2 linked regions of the Homo sapiens genome follow. The protein of the gene in region 1 purifies or fractionates together with the protein of each later gene. This does not show direct contact. Each region holds a gene or a part of one and is shown in the gene's direction. Other genes may lie near its edges. The genes, in order: UBE4B and UBL7.

The links.
Region 2: the proteins of UBE4B (region 1) and UBL7 purify together in Homo sapiens (affinity purification with mass spectrometry; 5 studies listed by BioGRID and IntAct, with this or other methods). This does not show direct contact.

What each region holds. Positions count from the first base shown.
Region 1 is NC_000001.11:10,125,674-10,135,769, forward strand, and holds part of UBE4B (ubiquitin conjugation factor E4 B), read left to right. Parts: intron 1-1,120; coding exon 1,121-1,204; intron 1,205-3,718; coding exon 3,719-3,775; intron 3,776-4,826; coding exon 4,827-4,943; intron 4,944-5,041; coding exon 5,042-5,140; intron 5,141-6,695; coding exon 6,696-6,809; intron 6,810-9,314; coding exon 9,315-9,513; intron 9,514-10,096. UniProt on the Homo sapiens protein: Ubiquitin-protein ligase that probably functions as an E3 ligase in conjunction with specific E1 and E2 ligases. May also function as an E4 ligase mediating the assembly of polyubiquitin chains on substrates ubiquitinated by another E3 ubiquitin ligase.
Region 2 is NC_000015.10:74,457,055-74,467,797, reverse strand, and holds the start of UBL7 (ubiquitin-like protein 7), read left to right. Parts: upstream 1-6,637; 5' UTR 6,638-6,761; exon of another isoform or gene 6,762-7,039; coding exon of another isoform or gene 7,040-7,130; intron 7,131-8,694; exon of another isoform or gene 8,695-8,779; intron 8,780-8,901; coding exon of another isoform or gene 8,902-8,930; coding exon 8,931-9,114; intron 9,115-10,743.

The sequences.
Region 1 (10,096 bases):
TTGAATCCCAACCAACTCCCTAAATGTGTTGATCAGTGCTTGCATTGTGAAATTTGAAGATGAGCTAGGCTGAGTAAATCTTACATGGTGTTACCTGGTATTAATCATAAATGTATAAAAGCAGATTTGAGTTCCTTTAAGTGCCAATAGCAGGTTAATGTATTAATTACACTATATGTGGAGGTAAGGCTTTCTAACTAAAGCTTTCTTTGTAAATTTCAACATTTACCAACTAGCTCTTTGCTCTAATTTAAGTTTAATGTAGTAATAATGTTGATTGTTGGCCTGTTTATCTTGTTTTCCTCAAAATAAATGGGGAAAAGCTTTTAAAAAATATTGATAGAGGGCCAAGCGCGGTAGCTCATGCCTGTGATCCCAGCACTTTGGGAGGCTGAGGCGGGTGGATCACGAGGTCAGGAGTTCGAAACCAGCGTGGCCAACAAAGTGAAACCCCGTCTCTACTAAAAATACAAAAATTAGCCAGGTGTGGTGGCACATGCCTGTAATCCCAGCTGGCTCGGGAGGCTGAGGCAGGAGAATCACTTGAACCCCAGAGGCACAGGTTGCAGTGAGCCAAGACTGTGCCATTGCACTCCAGTCTGGGTGACAGAGCGAGACTCCGTCTCAATATAGATAGATAGATAGATAGATAGATAGATAGATAGATAGATAGATAGATAGAAAGGAGGAAATATTGGAACATTTAATTGAATTTTTTAACAGGTTATAGATGCTTGGTAATCAAGAACATATTAGTTGCTGAGATGTGCAGAATTTAATTGAGTAGAGCAACGACTCCTGGAGAGTTCTTCAACAGGCTCCAAATGTATGGGTTTTGTTGAATTACTGGGTTTTGTTGAATTACTGGGGGTCCTGTCAGAGTATTAGAGTTCACCAAACTCCTCTTACTTCTGGAGAATTCAGCTGTATTACTTTATGGTTAGACTTGTCAAAGAACAGGTCAACACTCTGGCTGAATTCTAGACTTTTATATGCAAAAAAGCTTTTCCCTGGGGAAGGAATGAAATTTGGACATTCAGTTCTAGCACCTTATTTGACATACTTCCCACTCTTAGATTCTCTTAAACTTATATTTCTGATTTTGTTTTTTTTCTTATAGATATTTATCCCCATTTTACAAGGCCTGGCTCTTGCTGCCAAAGAGTGCTCCCTCGACAGTGACTACTTTAAATACCCCCTCATGGTAAAACTTTGTTCTTTTTCTTTAACTCATTCAATAGATGTTTTTCTTTCAGATTATTTTGACATATACTTTTCTTTCAGGTCCATGAGATCAACCTTGTTTTCAAATTTAAAACATGAAATCACTGTGTTGGCCATGCAGAGTGTTTGGTGTGCAGTGAGATGCATCAGTGAAGACAGTTAGCAGCCTGGTACATCTTCCACCTATCCAAGTCCTAGACAGGAGTTAAATGCACTTATTACAATGTACTTTGTATAGCTTATGAAAAAGATAACTTATCTCCTAGCAATGAGCATACCATAGTTGGGATGAAATTTTGTTACTTAAAAAAAAAAAACCTATTAAAAATGCAAATAAAAAAGGCAAAGCTGTACATACTAAGAAAATGAATACAATTTTATCTTTATGTGTTTACTTTGTGCAGAAAATCTCAGTGTAGCTCTCTTGTTCACCCTCCCTGTTTCCTAAGGTCATATTTACTTGGGAAGTAGAAATCTGCTTAGCTCTTTAACGCACTTAGAGCAGGCATACATTGTGGACAGAAGCTTCAGCTAGATTCCCATGGGGAGGCTTGAATGTTGTGAAAATGCTGAAACTAGAATGAAAATTAGAAGCTCCTTTCTGTTCTGAATTCGCTTATTTGAAATTTTGGGAGAAAAGTATTTTGAAGTGTTACTGAATATTTTCGTTGCAGAAGTGTAAAGGAAAAAATATCAAAATGAAATTAGTTTATTCTATGTATAAATTAAGTCTTATGTAAATTGAGACCATGGTTGTTTTTCTTACTGTATTTATTTCTTTTACTTATTCCACTGATTGGATTCCATTATACCATGAATTCATTACTGACGATCTGTTCTGTGCTAGACACTGGTGATACAGAAGCTAGGAAGACAAGGTCCCTCTCCTCAAGGCACTCATAATCTACTGCAAAAATAAGAGCTACAGCGCAACAGTTGAACAGATACTGTGATAAATGTTAAAACAGAGCTGTACACAAAGGGTGTATTTATCTATTTAAAAAATTCAAACCTGTCATGGCACTAAAAGGCTACAAGAATGCTGGGAAATTAGAAGGTGAAACCAGAATTCCTACTTTAAAAAATAATTTTAAGTGGATTTATGCCAGAGCTCTTTCCATTGTACATGTTATTGGGGCTCCTGGTAAAATTATTTGAATCCTTATGTATTGTTCTCCCTGTGGCAGATAAAAGGAAGTGGAATAATCTGATTGTTTGAGTTCAGTGATGAAATATTTTAGTGAACACTAATTATCACCATATTATGTAGATGTTCCTTCATGGGACTGTTGGCTTTTGGGTTGTGGTGTGAATTAGCTTGATGTTTCAGTGAGGAGCTTTTAGCATCTGATATCACCAAAATGTCCTTTTGTTCAAAAGACAGAGGCCTCCATTGTGGTAGACAGTGATTTCATTTTGTGCCATTATTGATGCTTGCATAATAACGAGGACACAGTGAGTGAGAGGGTACAATAATGAGAGGCAGGAAGCGGAAGACTGTTGAAGCTAAAATCAGAAATCATTGTGATCATTCTCTAGGTCAGTGGATCCTGCTGTGCCATACGTTGGAATCACCTTGGAATCAGCTGGGGATCTTTAAAGGTGTTTCTGCCTGGCTCCCCACCCCAGACCTTGTGATTTAATTCACCAGGGGTGTGGCATGGCATTGGGGTTTCCAAAGGCTTCCCATGTGATCCTAATATGCAGCCACGTTTGTGAACTCCTGCACTAGGCAGTGAGAACGCTTCCTTCTGAGTTGAGGCTGCCTGAACCTCAAAGGCATCTCAACGTTGTGTCAATGCCTAAATGCACTCTTCGGCTCATGTAGCAACTTCTAGAGCTGCGTCCGAATCACAGAGGAAATTAACTGTTGAAAATAATGTTTGATTGAGTTACCATGGGCATGCTAAATTATGTTTATGTCCCTAAAAAGTGTTTTTCATCGTTCTCTAATGTTAGGATGGTTGGATGTCTGAAGGAAAGTGTTGGAATTCTTAAAAGTACTAGAAATCTTGAAACCAAGTTATGTTTTTAAATATGTTTTGAATTTGATAGCTTATTAAATTGTAATTATTTATAGTCATGTTTAACACTGGCAAGAGGAGCCATCTAAAGTTTATGAAATAAATCTTTTTGACATGGAAAGATATGAAGTGGAAAAACTTTTTTGTAAAAAACATATATAGATACAGTACACAAAAATATATCTGAAAACTGTTGCTCAAAATATCAATAGAGGTTATCTTTGAGGGTAAAGCTTGAGTAATTTTTAGTTTCATTTTATATTTCTGTTTTATTTCAAGTTTTCACATTGCATGTGTTTTAGTTTATTAATCAGAAAAAGTAGTGAAGCTGCTGCCATTTCAGAGGGAATGCATGTGTGCCATTTTAGAGGGAACGAATTTATAGCAGCAGTTAAAACTGTTTCTTTATGCTACAAATGACAGTCAGTTTAAGATGAAATGCATTTAAATGACTCTGATCTTATTTCTAGGCACTAGGTGAGCTCTGTGAAACCAAGTTTGGGAAGACACACCCTGTGTGCAATTTGGTAAGCACTCACCTGATGGGCTTGCACATTTTCAGTGAATATATCATAACCCAGAAGGCATTCCTCTAGTGAGATGGCCTGGAAAATGTCTCTTGAAGGACATTTAGGTGTAGGCGGAGGTAACGTGTCTGGGAGGCTCTCAACTGTTACATTTTTGTTAGACACGTTATATCCTGCATTACAGTTGTTCATTTCTATGATTTTTTTCCCTTTTTTTTCTAAGAATCTCACTCTGTCACCCAGGCTGGATGGAGTGCAGTGGTGGGATCTTGGCACACTGCAGCCTACGCCTCCTGGGTTCAAGTGAGTCTCGTGCCTCAGCCTCCCAAGTAGCTGGGAATACAGGCATGCATTACCATGCGAGGCTAATTTTTTTGTATTTTTAGTAGAGATGGAGTTTTACCATGTTGGCCAGGCTGGTCTCGAACTACTGACCTCAGGTGATCCACCCGCCTCAGCCTCCCAAAGTGTTGGGTTACAGGCGTGAGCCACCGCACCGGGCCTGTTTTTTTTCCCTTGACAAGTATTGTACAACTAAACTAACAAGAGGTATGGAAAAGTTATTCGAGTCCTTTGGTGGTATAAGAAGAGTTCATTTGAACTTCATCCAATAGTATCCTGAAACTTAAACATTCTTTTTTTTGAGACAGAGTCTCACTCTGTCACCCAGGCTGGAGCGCAGTGGCGCAATCTCAGCTCACTGCAACCTCTGCCTCCTGGGTTCAAGCGATTCTCTTGGCCTCAGCCTCCCCAGTAGCTGGGATTACAGGCGCACACCACCACGCCCGGCTAATTTTTGTATTTTTAGTAGAGACGGGGTTTCTCCATGTTGGCCAGGGTTGTCTCGGACTCCTGACCTCAGGTGACCCACCCCCACCCACACTGGCCTCCCAAAGTGCTGGGATTACAGGCGTGAGCCACCATGCCTGGCTGAAACATAAAAGTTTTAATAATATCTTGTGAAAATACAGAGGAGCTGGAGAGTTTTCATTACATTTTTACCCCACCGGCCTGTTCAGCGGCTTGACTGGCTCTTCCATCTTCTGCCTAGGTTGCTTCTTTGCGGTTGTGGTTGCCGAAATCCTTAAGTCCTGGCTGTGGGCGGGAGCTGCAGAGACTCTCTTACTTAGGGGCTTTCTTTAGCTTCTCAGTCTTTGCAGAAGATGATGTAAGTATAGTGGCTACTTGTACTTTGCTGCCCTTTTATTCAGATTCTTTCCCAAATGTGCATTATATGTTGACTGCATTTTTTCCTTCTCTTTCCAGGTTAAAGTGGTTGAAAAATACTTCTCAGGGCCTGCCATTACCCTGGAAAACACTCGTGTGGTTAGCCAATCATTGCAGCATTACTTAGAGCTCGGAAGGGTAAGTGTTCAGAAAACAAATCCAGAGGAAGTATCAAAGATGAGCTCCAGATACAGAGCTTTTATTTTGTAGACTGGACTATGCCCAGTAGACAAACGGCTAACAAAAGCCAATTCGATCTTACATAAAAAAGATAAACTATAAGTAAGTAGCCTGTGTCTTGAATAACAGGTTGTAACAACAGCAGTATGCTGCCTTTGTATGTAGCATCACTGGGAACTGGTCCTAAGCTTAGTGGCCCGGCTCCTCCTCCAGCTGGCCCTTAGGCATTTACACTGTGAGGGTGAGCAAGGATTGTTAGTTTGCACACACCCTCACTGACTTGCTTATCCCAAATGCAGATTAATATGTCTTCAATTCTCAAACTTAAAGGCAGAGAAGGGCCGGGTGTGATGGCTCATGCCTGTAATCCCAACACTTTGGGAGGCCGAGTGGGGTGGATCACCTGAGGTCAGGAGTTTGAGAACAGCCTGGCCAACATGACGAAACCCCGTCTCTACTAAAAATACAAAAATTAGCCAGGCATGGCAGCGCGTGCCTGTAATCCCAGCTACCTAGCTACTCGGGAGGCTGAGGCACAAGGATCACTTGAACCCAGGAGGTGGAGGTTGCAGTGAGCCAAGATCACGCCACTGCACATCAGCCTGGGCGACAGAGCAAGACTCCATCTCAAAAAAAAGAAACAGGCAAAGAAGTTACAGGCTTGGGTAACTAAGGTAATTTTGATCATGGGAAAGAAGTAACAAAGCCTATTTTATTAAAACTGTAACTGCCGGCTGGGCGTGTTGGCTAATGCCTGTAATCCCAACACTTTGGGAGGCTGAGATGGGCTGATCACGAGGTCAGGAAGTCATCCTGGCCAACATGGTGAAACCTCGTCACTGCTAAAAATACAAAAATTGGCCAAGGCAGGTGGATCACGAGGTCAGCAGTTTGAGACCAGCCTGACCAACATGGTGAAACCCCATCTCTACTAAAATACAAAAAAAATTAGCTGGGCATGGTGGCGGGTGCCTGTAATCCCAGCGACTTGGGAGGCTGAGGCAGGAGAATCGCTTGAAACCGGGAGGCGGAGGTTGCACTGAGCCGAGATGTGCCACTGCACTTTAGCCTGGGCAATAAGAGCAAAACTCCGTCTCAAAAAAAAAAACAACAAAAATGCAAAAACTAGCTGGGTGTGGCGGCGTGTGCCTGTAATCCCAACTACTCGGGAGGCTGAGGCAGGAGAATGGCTTGAACCTGGGAGGCGCAGGTTGCAGTGAGCTGAGATTGCACCACTGCACTCCAGCCTGGCAACAGAGCTAGACTCTGTCTCAAAAAAAAACAAAAAACTGTAACTGCCTACCTCCCCCACTCCATATTCTGCTTTCATGCTCATTACTTTGACATAGTTGGATGTGGATATTTCTTATATTCTTTCACTCAGGCTCTTCTAAAATGAGTAGAAGTGGGAGAGGAGAGAACGTGGGAAGTAGGCTAGCTGTTCGTGAAGTCAAAAAGGAATCATGTGCAAAATAGTTTTAATTTGTTTCTTCTTTTTAAAAATAAATTTCAGCAAGAGCTTTTTAAGATTCTGCATAGTATTTTGTTAAATGGCGAAACCCGTGAGGCTGCTCTCAGTTACATGGCGGCTGTCGTCAATGCCAATATGAAGAAAGCACAGATGCAGGTAGGATTCCTACAGACTGCTTTTCGCTGTTTGTCAAATTCATTCATCTGACCCAGATTTAGTCAGCACCTACCAGGCACTGTTCTAGGAGTGGGGGTACAGTATTGAACAAGGTAGACGAGCTTCCTGCTTTTGTGGAGCCCATGTTCCACAGAATAAACAAGTAGACATATAAATACATGATTTTAGACAGTTGTATAATCAGTGAAGAAAATAGAGCAAAGTAAATGACATGAGAAGAACTGTAGGTACCAGAAGGAAGATCTGAAGGTGATTTTTGATTGGGTGGCAGGAAAGGCCTCCCTGAGGAGGTGACATTTGTTTCATAGGAAGGAGCCAGCCATTGTAGTGGCTGAGAAAAGAGCTATCCAATGTGGAAACGAAGCAGCTTTGGTACAAGCCCAGCACGCAGGCTTTTGTGGCTGGAGAAGAGTGAACAGGAGGGAATGTCGGGTCCTGGAGTTAGTGGATAGGCAGGGCGCCATCGGGTTAGGTTTACGTGATCAGAACTGTCATGGGAGGGTTTTCAGCAGGGAAACCACAAAAGCTGCTATGTAGACGGACCAAAACAGAAGGGGGCAGCCAGGAACAGACCCAAGGGGGCAGCCAGGAACAGACCCAAGAAGGCAGCTGCAAGGGCGTGAGTGCTTCGGTCCGGGTGAGACAGGCCAGTGGCTGCAGCTGCTTTGCCAGAGGAGAAAAGGGCATCCTTCCTTGACTAGTAATAAATAATGAATGAATGATGTGATGTGTATACTCAGAAGCAAAAATCATGTAGAGAGAAGAGCACAGATCTTGTGATTTCTGATCGTGGTTCCACCGTTTACTAACTGCGGGACCTTAGACAGTGACTCCTCTGTGCCTCCATTTCCTCATCTGCTAAGCTGCGGTACTACTGGTACTGGGTTTATTATATATAAAGCTGTTAGAGTGGTGCCTGGTACACAGTGATCACTCAACCAATATTAACTATCATTCTTATCATTGTTGTATTATTATTTTTTTCTTAACAGAGGTAATCAAGTTACATTGTTATATTGCTAATGCAGGAGCATGCTGATGCTGTCACCTAGAGAAACAATGTCACATGATAAGAAGTGGAGCAACTTGTTTTGATGCTCTTGAGGGAAATAAAGAGGAGAAAGAGGCCGGGCATGGTGGCTCACGCCTGTAATCTCAGCACTTTGGGAGGCCGAGGTGGGAGGATCACTTGAGCCCAGGCATTTGAGACCAGCCCTGGCGACATAATGAGACCCCATCTCTACAAAATATACAAAAGTCATCTGGGCATGGTGGCTGGTGCATGCCTATAGTTTCAGCTACTTGGGAGGCTGAGGCAAGAGGATCACTTGAGCCAGGGAGGTCGAGACCAGCCTGGGCAACATAGGGAGACCCTGTCTCTACAAAAAAAATAAAAAATTAGCCAGTATAGTGGCATAGACCTGTAGACCCAGTTATTCAGGAGGCTGAAGTGGGAGGATCACTTAAGCCCGGGAGGTTGAGGCTGCAGTGAGCTATGTTTGCACCACTGCACTACAGCCTGGGCAACAGAGTAAAACCCTGTCTCAAAAAAAAAAAAGAAAGAAAGAAAGAAACATTTATTGTGTTTCTACTTACTAATTTTGAGCCTCAGGCAAATCACTTCAGGGTCTCTGAGTCTTTATTTCCTCCTGCATAAAATGTTAACAGCAGTATTACTGACCTGTAAGAATTATCGTGATGGTTCAGTAAAAGAATGTATAAAATGGCCAAGCGTGGTGGCTCATGCCTGTAATCCCAGCAATTTGGGAGGCCGAGACGGGCGTATCACCTGAGGTCAGGAGTTCGAGACCAGCCTGGCCAATATGGTGAAACCCCATCTCTACTAAAAATACAAAAAATTTGCCGGGCGTGGTGGCGGGTGCCTGTAATCCCAGCTACTCGGGAGGCTGAGGCAAGAGAATCACTTGAACCCGGGAGGCGGAGGTTGTAGTGAGCGAGGATCGTGCCACTGCATTCTAGCCTGGGCAACAAGAGTGGAACTCCATCTCAAAAAAAAGAAAAGAAAAGAAAAGAATGTATAAAATGCCTCTTATATAAATAATAATTATATAATAGGCGGTATTCAACAAGTAGCACCTGCTAATATAGAATTAATGGAATGACAGTGGTGATGAGATATATGTCTTCTCATTGACTTTAGGATACAGTTATGTTTGAAAGTTCAGTCTGCTTTCTTACAAAGTTTGCCAAAATTTCTATTCATGTTATTTTAAATACTTTTTCTTGGCTGGTCACAGTGGCTCACACCTGTAATCCCAGCACTTTGGGAAGCTGAGGTGGGCGGATCACTTTAGGTCCCAGCTACTTGGGAGGCTAAGGTGGGAGGATTGCTTGAGCCTGGGAGGTGGAGGTTGCAGCCAAGATCACACCCCTTCGCTCCAGCCTGGGCAACAGAGTGAGACCCCATCTCAAAAAAAATTTTTTTTAATGTTTAAAAATACTTTTTCTTTTCAACTTTCACAGACAGATGATAGATTGGTGTCTACAGATGGATTTATGCTGAATTTCCTTTGGGTACTGCAGCAGCTAAGTACAAAAATCAAGTTAGAAACAGTTGATCCCACGTATATTTTTCACCCAAGATGTCGGATTACTCTTCCCAATGATGAGACGCGTGTGAATGCAACGATGGAAGATGTGAATGACTGGCTGACTGAACTCTGTGAGTACTGTGTTCGTGACTCGGTCATTAAAACACTGCCCTCTTGTCTGTGTGCTAGTAGTTCCTCACAGATTGTTACCACCTCACCATAAAATGAACTTAAGAGATAGAGAAACATAATAAAAATTAATACAGTAGGCCTGGCGTGGTGACTCATACCTATAATCCCAGCACTTTGGGAGGCCGAGGCAGGTGGATCACGAGGTCAGGAGTTCAAGACCAGCCTGACCACCGTGGTGAAACCCCGTCTCTACTAAAAATACAAAAATTAGCTGGGCATGGTGGCACACGCCTGTAATCCCAGCACTTTGGGAGGCTGAGGTGGGCAGATCAAAAGGTCCGGAGTTCATGACCAGCCTGATCACCATGGTGAAACCCCATCTCTACTAAAAATACAAAAATTAGCGGGTGTGGTGGCACGCACCTGTAATCCCAGCTACTCAGGAGGCTGAGGCAGGAGAATTGTGTGAACCCAGGAGGCTGAGCTTGCAGTGAGCCATGATCACGGCACTGCACTCCAGCCTGGGCAACAGAGTGAGACTCTGTCTCAAAAAAAAAAAAAAAACAGATACAAATTGAAAAA
Region 2 (10,743 bases), on another chromosome or scaffold:
AAATATCATACAAAATTATGATAAGAGAATAAGCAGCAGAATTATATTTCTATAAATAATAAAAGCATACCAATAAGATGTGAACAGAGAACAGATAAAAACTATAATCATCTATTTTCAAAATAAACTGAAATGTATTAAGAAAATGATATGGCCAGGTGCAGTGGTTCACGTTTATAATCCCAGCACTTTGGGAGGCTGAGGTGGGTGGATCACTTGAGGCCAGGAGTTTGATACCAGCCTGGTCAACATGGTGAAACCCCATCTCTAGTAAAAATTCAAAAATTAGCTGAGTGTGGTGATGCCCGCCTGTAATCCCAGCTACTTGGGAGGCTGAGACAGGAGAATCGCTTGAACTCAGGAGGCAGAGGTTGCAGTAAGCTGAGATCGTGCCACTGCACTCCAGCCTGGGCAACAGAATGAGACTCCATCTCAGAAAAAAAAAAAAAGAAAGAAAATGATATATGAAAACACAACATCAAAAAGAACTTGGAGAACTCAGAAATGAGGTGACAGAACTCAGGAAAGAAACTTATAAATAAAAGAAAAAAAATAGGCCAAGCACAGTGGCTCATGCCTGTAATCCCAGCACTTTGGGAGGCTGAGACAGGTGGATCACCTGAGGTCAGGAGTTTGAGACCAGCCTGGCCAACATGGTGAAACCTCATCTCTACTAACAAATATAAAAATTAGCCGGGCACTGTGGCAGGCACCTATAATCCCACCTACTTGGGAGGCTGAGGCAGGAGAATTGCTTGAACCCGGGAGGTGGAGGTTGTGGTGAGCAGAGATCACGCAACTGCACTTCAGCCTGGGCGACAGAGCGAAATTCTGTCTCAAAAAATAAAAAATAAAAAATAAATACAAAATGAAGACTAAAGCAAAAGGAACACAGAAGAAATAAATACAACAGATGATGCCTTAAGTAGAATGTAGAAAGGAGGAACATTTAAAAAATATTTTTAAAAATGAAGAAAGAGAAAAGATTTGAGAAAAGTGGCAGATATTGAAGAGAAACAACAAAGATACAACATATGGCTAACATGAGTCCTCTTAAGAACCAAACCAAGGCAAGAGAACGGAACTATTCTAAAACCTGTAATTCAAAAATCAATCTTTACTGAAATAAAAAAAATATAAATTACATTTTGGAAGAGAATACCACATAACTGAGACTACTGACCTAAAACAAACAGCACCAAGATGTAGTCAGGTAAAATGACTGGAAATTAAACAAAAAATTTTAAAAACTACTTGGGCAACCTGGTGAAAAGAGCAAGTAACTTGTAAGGGAAAGAAAATTAGATTTCTGTCATCAGATGAAAATGAAATATCTTAAGAAAGAAAATGTGAGCCAACAATTTTATATTTAGCAAACTGATTTTCAAGCATAAAGGCCAGAAATAAACTGCTATTAATATGCAAAAGTTTAGGGAATATCATTCACAGAGAATATTGTAGTCCTTCCAGGAAATCCACTAAAGAACGGGTTCAGTAATAAAAACCACTGGGCCAGGCACAGTGGCTCATGCTTGTAATCCCAACATTTTGGGAGGCCAAGGCGGGTGAATCACTTGAGGCCAGGAGTTTGAGACCAGCCTAGCCAACACGGTGAAACTCTGTCTCTATTAAAAATACAAAAATTAGCCGGGCATTGTGCTACATACCTGTAATCCCAGCTGCTTGGGAGGCTGAGGCAGGAGAATCGCTTGAACCTGGGGTGGAGATGCAGTGAGCCAAGATTGCACCAATGTACTTCAGCCTGGGTGATACAGTGAGACTCTGTGTCAGAAAACAAAACAAAACAACAACAACAACAGCAACAAAAACCAGTGGAAAGCATTAAACATGGAATTCTGATTTTATTTATTTATTTATTTTTGAGATGGAGTTTCACTCTTGTCGCCCAGGCTGGAGTGCAATGGTGTGATCTCGGCTCACTGCAACCTCCACTTCCTGGGTTCAAGCAATTCTCCTGCCTCAAGCTCCCAAGTAGCTGAGATTACAGTGCCCGCCAGCACACCCCCACTAATTTTTGTATTTTTAGTAGAGAAGGGTTTCACTATGTTGGCCAGGCTGGTCTCAAACTCCTGACCTCAGGTGATCTGCCTGTCTCAGCCTCCCAAAGTGCTGGGATTACAGGTGTGCGCTGCCGCACCTGGCCTAAACATGGAATTCTTTGTAGTATTAAGAGAGTTAAAAAGAGGAAGGTAGAGTAATGAGTATAGGCTCAGATAATATACAGCACATCTGTTAAAATGGAGAGAATGAATGGAGGGGATAGAATGAGAAGGGCATATGCAAACATTTTTTTAAACGTCTCAATAATTATATTGGTGGTGATAGTATCATTAGTATTGTTATTTTGAGACAGTTGGGTATGTGATATGGGATAAAGGAAATGAAAATAGATATTTAAATACTGTTGTCCCTTATGTTCTTGAGAACTAGTATTCTCAGTGTGGAAGAAAGGAAATAAAGATGTAATATAGAAAATATTAAATTAAAATTCTGCAGTCTTACTTTGGGAGGCTGAGGTGGGCAGATTGCTTGAGTCCAGTAATTCAAGACCGGCCTGGGCAACATGGTGAAACCCTGCCTCCACAGAAAATACACAAATTAGCTGGGCATGGTGGTGCACAACTGTAGTCCCAGCTACTTGGCAGGCTGAGGTGGGAGAATCGCTTGAGCCTGGGAGTTTGAGGCAGCAGTGAGTCATGATTGCACCTCTGTACTCCAGCCTGGGCAACAGAGGGAGATCCTGTCTCAAAAAAAACAAAACAAAAAGCAACCCATAAAACCAAAAGCCAAAACCAAACCCAACCTCTGTAGTCTTGAATTTGAAGTAGCAGTATAAATATTCTCTATTTATATCTCTATGGATATAGATCTCCCCCTAGCTCCATCCACTAATGTGGCTTACAAGTAACAAACAATTCAGTAGCAATAAGCATCCCTAGTGCCCAGATTGTGGTCTTAATATACCATTTCCCACAGAAAACCATATGAATTTCTTGAAGAAATGGCTAATTTTTATGCCTAGGGCAGGAAGTACAAGATTAGCTAGGAACTCTTGTCATGCTAGATAGCAGGGAGCTATCAAAAACCTCCAGGGTTATGTCAAAAGGACTCAAGAATCAAGTTGAAGAGGAGGCTCCATTGTTATGGTACTGTATTAGTCTGTTCTTGCACTGCTATAAAGAACTACCTGAGACCAGGTGATTTATAAAGAAAAGTGCTTTAATTGACGCACAGTTCTGCAGGCTATACAGGAAGCATGGCTGGGGAAGCCACAGGAAACATACAATCATGGCAGAACGTGAAGGGGAAGCAAGCACATCTTCACATGGCAGAGCAGGAGAGAGAGGGCAAAGGGGGAAGTGCTACACACTTTTGAACAACCAGATCTCTTGAGAACTCACTGTCATGAGAACAGCAAGGGGGAAGTCTGCCCCATGATCCAAACATCATGACCTCCCACCAGGCCCCTCCTCCAACATTGAGGATTACAATTCAACATGAGATTTGGGTGGGGACACAGAGCCAAACCATATCAGGTACCATGAATGTCAACATGAGAAAATACAAGTATATTGTGGAAAATGAGAATCAAGTTTCCTACTATTGCAGAAGGGAGGTAAAATTATAGAGAAGAGGAAGACTAGAGGAAAATATGTGGTATTGGATTGGAATTTGAGGTATTGGTGTGAACTCATATTTTATATATACATATATATTTTGATATATGTGCACATATATATGCTCACATATACATAGATCTATATATACATATACACATCTATATGCACACATATTTAAATATATTTCATAGAAATATAGATGAATGGGTGTGTATATCAATATTCATTTATTTGCTAGGTCTAGTCACTGAAATAGACTGGAAATAATGACATCTCAGTAGCAATAAACACACCTAGCATCCAAACTTGGCTTCTAAATACCATTCCTTACTAAAAGGAACTAAGGCTCTTTGGAGAAATGAATGATGTGACAGATGTGAAAATCTATGACATAACTTATGAAAATGGCAGAGAGATGATCAGCCTCCACCCAACTGGAATGGTTGATGAAAGCTGAATGAGATTGTAAGTTACATGGTATTATTGTATTTATTAATTTCTTGATTTTGCTGGGTTGTACTGTGGCTGTGACATAGAATATATCCTTGTTTTCAGGAAATACAGAAATACTTTGGGTAATGTCTGTAATTGGCTCTTAAACGGATCGGGTGGAAAAACAAAAGAACAATATGCATAGTGAGAGAGTGAGAGAGAAAGAATGATGAGGTAAATGTAAACTATTAACAACTGGGGACTTTGGGTTAAGGGTATGAGGGCATTATTTTGTAATATTTTTGCAACTGTACTGTAAACTTGAAATTATTTCAAAGTAAAAAGTCTCAAGAATATTTGAGCACAGGGGAAATATTCAAGCTAGGTAAAATATGTAGATTACTAAACAAATGTACAGTGTAATCTAAATTTTGTTGAATATACATATTTAAGATTCAGTAAAATTATACTTTTAGAAGCATAAAACAAAGTTAACAATTGTCATCTATTGGTGATAGAATAGCCATGCCCCTCTTAAAGCCAAAAGGCTAGCAGATATCAAGACCTACTCTAAAGTTAGAGAAATCAAGACGTGTGACATTGGCACAATGACAGAAAAATACACCCATGGCACAGAATAAGAGTCAAAAATTGACCCAGACATACATAGTCACCGGATTTATGACAAAGCTGCCACTGAAATTCAGTGGGAACAAAATTTTTAAATAGTGCTGGATCAATTGTACACCCATATGGAAGAGATGAATCTTGATGTCTAACTCCTATCATATACAAAGATTAATGTGAAATTAATCATAGACCTAAATGTGAAAGATAAAATAACACAGAAGAAAACCTAGGATAGTATCTTCATAACGAGGGCAGGCAAAGATTTCTTACATAGGACACAAAAGGCACTAACCATCACAACAAAATTTCAGGCCGGGCGTGGTGGCTACCGCTTGTAATCCCAGCACTTTGGGATCACCTGAGGTCAGGAGTTCGAGCAGCCTGGCCAACGTGGTGAAACCCCGTCTCTACTAAAAATACAAAAATTAGCCGGGCGTGGTGGCAGGTACCTGTAGCCCCAGCTCCTCAAGAGGCTGAGGCATGAGAATCTCTTGAACCCGGGAGGCGGAGGGTGCAGTGAGCCGAGATCGGCCACTACTGCACTCCAATCTGGGCGACAGAGCAAGACTCCGTCTCAAAAAAAAAAAAAAGTTTTAAAATGAAATTAAATTATCTAATACCATTAAGAGTAAAAAAAAAATCATGAACTGGGAAAGTATTCACAATATATAATTTTGATAAATTATGGAGCTCAGGTGCAAGTAACTTAGTAGGCAGGAGAGGAAGGAGTCTAAAGAAGTCTAGTTAGGAAGGATTACTGAAAGAGGGGGTATATCTAAAAATGGGTAGGATGGGAAAGGGAGACTTTGGGAACAGCCATGGGTTCCTAATGCGCCCACAACATACATGGGAGTTATCCTGAAGATAAACTCCCTGAAGACAGTGAAAGCCATTTCAAAACTCCCCATATAACTTATGAGAACAGAGGGGTGATCTGCCTTTAATGTTAGGCCTTCTGAGATCCTGCGATCTGTTCGCTCTCCTCAGTAACATTACCCTGCTCAATTGCTGCCTTAATCCCAGGTCGCACATTGGAATGTGGGAATTCAGCGTTTACATTTACCCACACAGGATCAGCCTTCAGCTGCTACGATCAACTTCAGTATTTTCATATAATCACTTTTTTCTTTCCTTAGTTCTTGAATTATTAATTCCTTGAGAAGAGTCCAATCAGAGGTAGTCTTTCTTCAGTATTTTCGGTAATCCTAATTTCTGTGCAAAAAAATTTCTGTTCCATTTTAACCGTGCAGAACTTTCTGTTATCTAAAACACAGTTTCTCTATGAGAGTTCAGTGAAAATTCCCCTTCCCAAACTGATTCTATGAATGACTGTTAGATAAGCTTCACCACTGCATGTAGAGGGTGTACCAGGAACCCAAGTTAGTAGCTCTCCTCAAAGACCCAACTTTTGGAGGGGGTCATCGTCTGGTTCCTGGTATGCCTCCACAGGTAGGTCCGCCTCAGGAAGTCAGCGGCGAGGAGCACAGAAGAGGCTGCCTTCACCAACGGACAGCAGTTTTCATCGTGAGGGCCGTCGGCAACCGCTTGGATGTGTCTAAAGGGGCCGTTTGGGAACCGGCCCTTCTGGAGGGAAGGGTCGGAGTGGGAGGGGATCCGGGATCCGCCTTACGGCCGAGTGTCCAGCAGCGCGTTCCAACCTGGCAGAACCGACGTACTTCATATGCTCCTCAGGGGAGCGCGGGAATCACCAGGCTGAAGAATGACTGGAAATGGGACCCTCTCCAACCAAAGCACCCAGACATTCCGGCGCCGGACATTTCAAAGAGCGCGGAAGCCACGCCTTCCCCCAGAACCGGAAGCTTTGCAACTAGCGCCTCTTGTAGACTGGCTGTTTATAAGGGGGCGGGGGGCCACAGCGGGAACTGCAACTCCCAGAATGCAGCGCGGAATTTCCGGTTTCCGGCGAGAGGGCCAGAGTGAGTGTTTACACCGGCGGCAGTGCGGCCGGGTTCCTTCCGCGGGACGGGTGAGGGCGCTGGGGCCCTGGGCAGCGCGGGCTCGATGTGTGTCAGCCAAGTAGCTGGTCCCACTGGAGCGGTGAGGTCGCCACCGGATAGTGTTCCTGCCCCATTACTAGCGATCTGTGACCTTGGGCCAGTGATTTTACTGAGTCTTGCTTCCCTCATCTTTAAAATGTGGCTAATGCCTGCCTTAGGGAACCGTTGTGAGGATTAAGTGAGACATGGTATATAAAACGACCTCCTTCTGGCATAAACTTGAGGTGGAAGATACCTTGAGGATGCTTGAAGGTCTGCTAGGCAGCTTCACAGCCTTTTCTTTCCTCTTCTCTATCAGAGGTCTCTTTGGAAGCAATAATGATGACTATAACAAGAACTTATCTTGCTTTGCAAGATTCTTCCGCCGTCAGAGTTTCTGATTTATTTTCTGGGGTTCCATGTATGCCAGGTATGGGGACAAGGATGAAGAAAACTTTAGTCTTTTGTTTTCAAGGGCATTCAAGAATTGGGGTGGAGGAGGGGGCAAGCAGATATTTGTAGCCCTTTTGTTCTGAGGGGATGTGGGAACAACAGAGGAAAGAGAGGGGACTGAGGTTATTGAATCTGTGTTGGTTTCGGTAGGAGTTTGCTAAAAGGCCAAAAAGGGAAGAGAAATTACATGCAGAGTTAGATGAGCAGAGGTGTAAAATAGGGGAGAGCTTTGTTATGAGTGTGTACTTACATGTTGTGGAGGTCCTTTGCAGGGGTAGGGCTCTGTTGGGGAATGAGGCTGGCAGGGAGTTTTGTAAGCCAGGCGATGAAGTTTAGACTTAATTTATATAGATGGTTTAGAGGTATTGGAAGAGGTCTTTTTCTGGGGGGCCGGGGTGGGGCAGGGAGGGACGGAGTCTCTGTCGCCCAAGCTGGAGTGCAGTGGCGCTATCTCGGCTCACTGCAACCTCCACCTCCCGGGTTCAAGCAATTCTCCTGCCTCAGCCTCTCAAGTAGCTGGGATTACAAGCGCCTGCCACCACGCCCTGCAAATTTTTTCTATTATAGTAGAGATGTAGTTTCACCATGTTGGCCAGGCTGGTTTCAAACACCTGATCTTAAGTGATCCGTCCTCCGCGGCCTCCCAAAGTGACAGGATTACAGGTGTGAGCCACCGCGTCTGGCTTTTTTTTTTTTTTTTTTTTTTTTTTTTGCGACAGAGTCTCTCTCTGTCACCCAGGCTGGAGTGCAGTGACGTGATCTTGGCTCACTGCAACCTCAGCCTTCCGAGTAGGTGGCACTACAGGTGCGCACTACCACGCCCAGCTAATTTTTGTATTTTTAGTAGTGACGGGTTTCACCATGTTGGCCAGGCTGGTCTTGAACTCTTGAGCTTAGGCAATCCGCCCGCCTAGGCCTCTCAAAGTGCTAGGGTTACAGGCATGAGCCACCGCGCCCAGCCCGACATTGGAAGAGTTCTAAGCAGAGAAGTGACTTGGTCAGATCTGTGTTTTAGAATGATGGGTTGTGGCCAGGCGCAGTCGCTCATGCCTGTAATCCCAGCACTTTGGGAGGCCGAGGCAGGTGGATCACGAGGTCAGGAGATCGAGACCATCCTGGCTAACACAGTGAAACCCCGTCTCTACTAAAAGTACAAAAAAAAAAAAAAATTAGCCTGGCGTCGTGGCGGGTGCCTGTAGTCCCTGCTACCTGGGAGGCTGAGGCAGGAAGGCAGGAGAATGGCGTGAACCTGGGAGGTGGAGCTTGCAGTGAGCCGAGATCGCGCCGCTGCACTCCAGCCTGGGCAACAGAGCGAGACTCCGTCTCAAAAAAAAAAAAAAAAATGATGGGTGTTGTTAGGTGGCAGCATAGATATTTGATAGGGAGAGGCAAGAGGCAGGGAACTTGTTATAAAGCTGTTCTACTGGTTCAAGCAACAGTTGAAGAAAATTGGAAAAAGGGGCATACAGAAGGGAGAGGGTTAGATGATCTCTCTCACAACATTCCTATTAGATTGGATGGCGTTTTTATGTCCACGTTAGGGATGAAGAAACTGAGGCCTAGAGAGCTGTCCATCACAGTATGAGTAGAGAGAGAACCCCAGATTCTAGTTCTGGCCTCCTGATGGTACGCCCTATGCCTCTTCAACAGTGTCACATTGAATTGTCTTTCATTCAACCCTTTGGTGGGTGGGGGTGGAGTAGAGTGGTGGTCTGTCTTTTAACCACTGAGGTTTTGTTCTTTTACAGGGAGAAAGAGAGAGCGCGAAAGAGAGAGGATGTCTCTCTCAGACTGGCACCTGGCGGTGAAGCTGGCTGACCAGCCACTTACTCCAAAGTCTATTCTTCGGTTGCCAGAGACAGAACTGGGAGAATACTCGCTAGGGGGCTATAGTATTTCATTTCTGAAGCAGCTTATTGCTGGCAAACTCCAGGAGTCTGTTCCAGACCCTGAGCTGATTGGTGAGTCTCTCTGGACTGGGGTTGGGCTGCTGCTCTGATCTCTTTTGGGGGAGGATACTTCTGGAATTACAAGAGTAAAGTAAGGGCTTGGGATTTGTTGCCTCATAATGTTAACACTCCAGGGAAGTGAATGTTGGGTAAATAGAAACACAAATCATATAATGAAACTATTGGTTGCCATTTCAGCCATGTATTATACTGAACTACCTTATCACCAGGTTCTTTATGACATTGTCTTGTTTTTTGTTTTTGTTTTTGTTTTGCTGTGTAGCCCAGGCTGGAGTGCAGTGGTGCGATCTCGGCTCACTGCAACCTCTGTCTCCTGGGTCCCAGTTCAAGCAATTCTGCCTCAGCCTCCCGAGTAGCTGGGATTACAGGCACACACCACCATGCCCAGCTAATTTTTGTATTTTTAGTAGAGACATGGGATTTCACCATGTTGGCCAGGCTGGTCTTGAACTCCTAACCTTGTGATTCTGCCCGCCTCAGCCTCCCAAAATGCTGGGATTACAGGCATGAGCCACCGCTCCTGGCCAACATTGTGAATTCTTTTTCTGAAAGAACAGAAGTTTGGGATGAGTTAGGAAAGGAGAAGTTGGTCAGGGGAGGCTCCTCAGTATATTTGAGGTAGGTCTTCAGGGATGATTAGAAGGATTTTTGCTTGGTTGACTGAGTAAAGGAAAGGCAGTAAAAAAGAAAAAGTGGCGTGGGCAGTCCAGGTGGAGGAGGGAGGAATTTAAATATAATTAAATTACACTGAAAAGGTAATTTTTAATAGCTAAAGGATCCAACTGGCAAGAAAGATGTTTTCAGTCATACCTGGATTGGGTTCATCCTATTTTGTTGTTTTTCCATTGATTTAAATTGGGCAGCCTCCACAATGTTAAACTCCAGAGTTTTTCTGTGGATAGATTCTGTGTGAATCCTTTTTTTTTTTTTTTTTTTTTGAGACGGAGTCTTGCTCTGTTGCCCAGGCTGGAGTGCAGTGGCGAGATCTCAGCTCATTGTAACCTCTGTCTCCCAGGTTCAGGCAATTTTCCTGCCTCAGCCTCCTGAATAACTGGGATTACAGGCCCGCACAACCACAACTGGCTAATTTTTGTGTGTATGTGTGTATATATATATATATTTCTTTTTTTTTGAGACAGAGTCTTGCTCTGTTGCCCAGGCTGGAGTGCAGTGGTGTGATCTTGGCTCACTGCAACCTCCGCCTCCTGGGTTCAAGCAATTCTCCTGCTTCAGCCTCCTGAGTAGCAGGGATTACAGGCGTCTGCCACCATGCCTGGCTAATTTTTGTATTTTTGGTAGAGACGAGGTTTACCATCTTGGCCAGGCTGGCCTTGAACTCCTGACCTCAGGTGATCCACCCACCTCGGCCTCCCAAAGTGTTGGGATTACAGGTGTGAGCCACCGTGCCCGGCCCTAATTTTCGCCATGGCCCAGGTTTCGCCATGTCGGCCAGGCTCCAAAAGTGCTGGGTTTATAGGTGTGAGCCACCACATCTGGCCAGATTCGATGTAAGTCCATTTTATGAGTTTATATTTGCAAATAGTTGTTGAAATGTATTTAATTGGCTAGGCATGGTGGTTCACGCCTGTCATCCCAGCACTTTGTGAGGCTAAGGCAGGA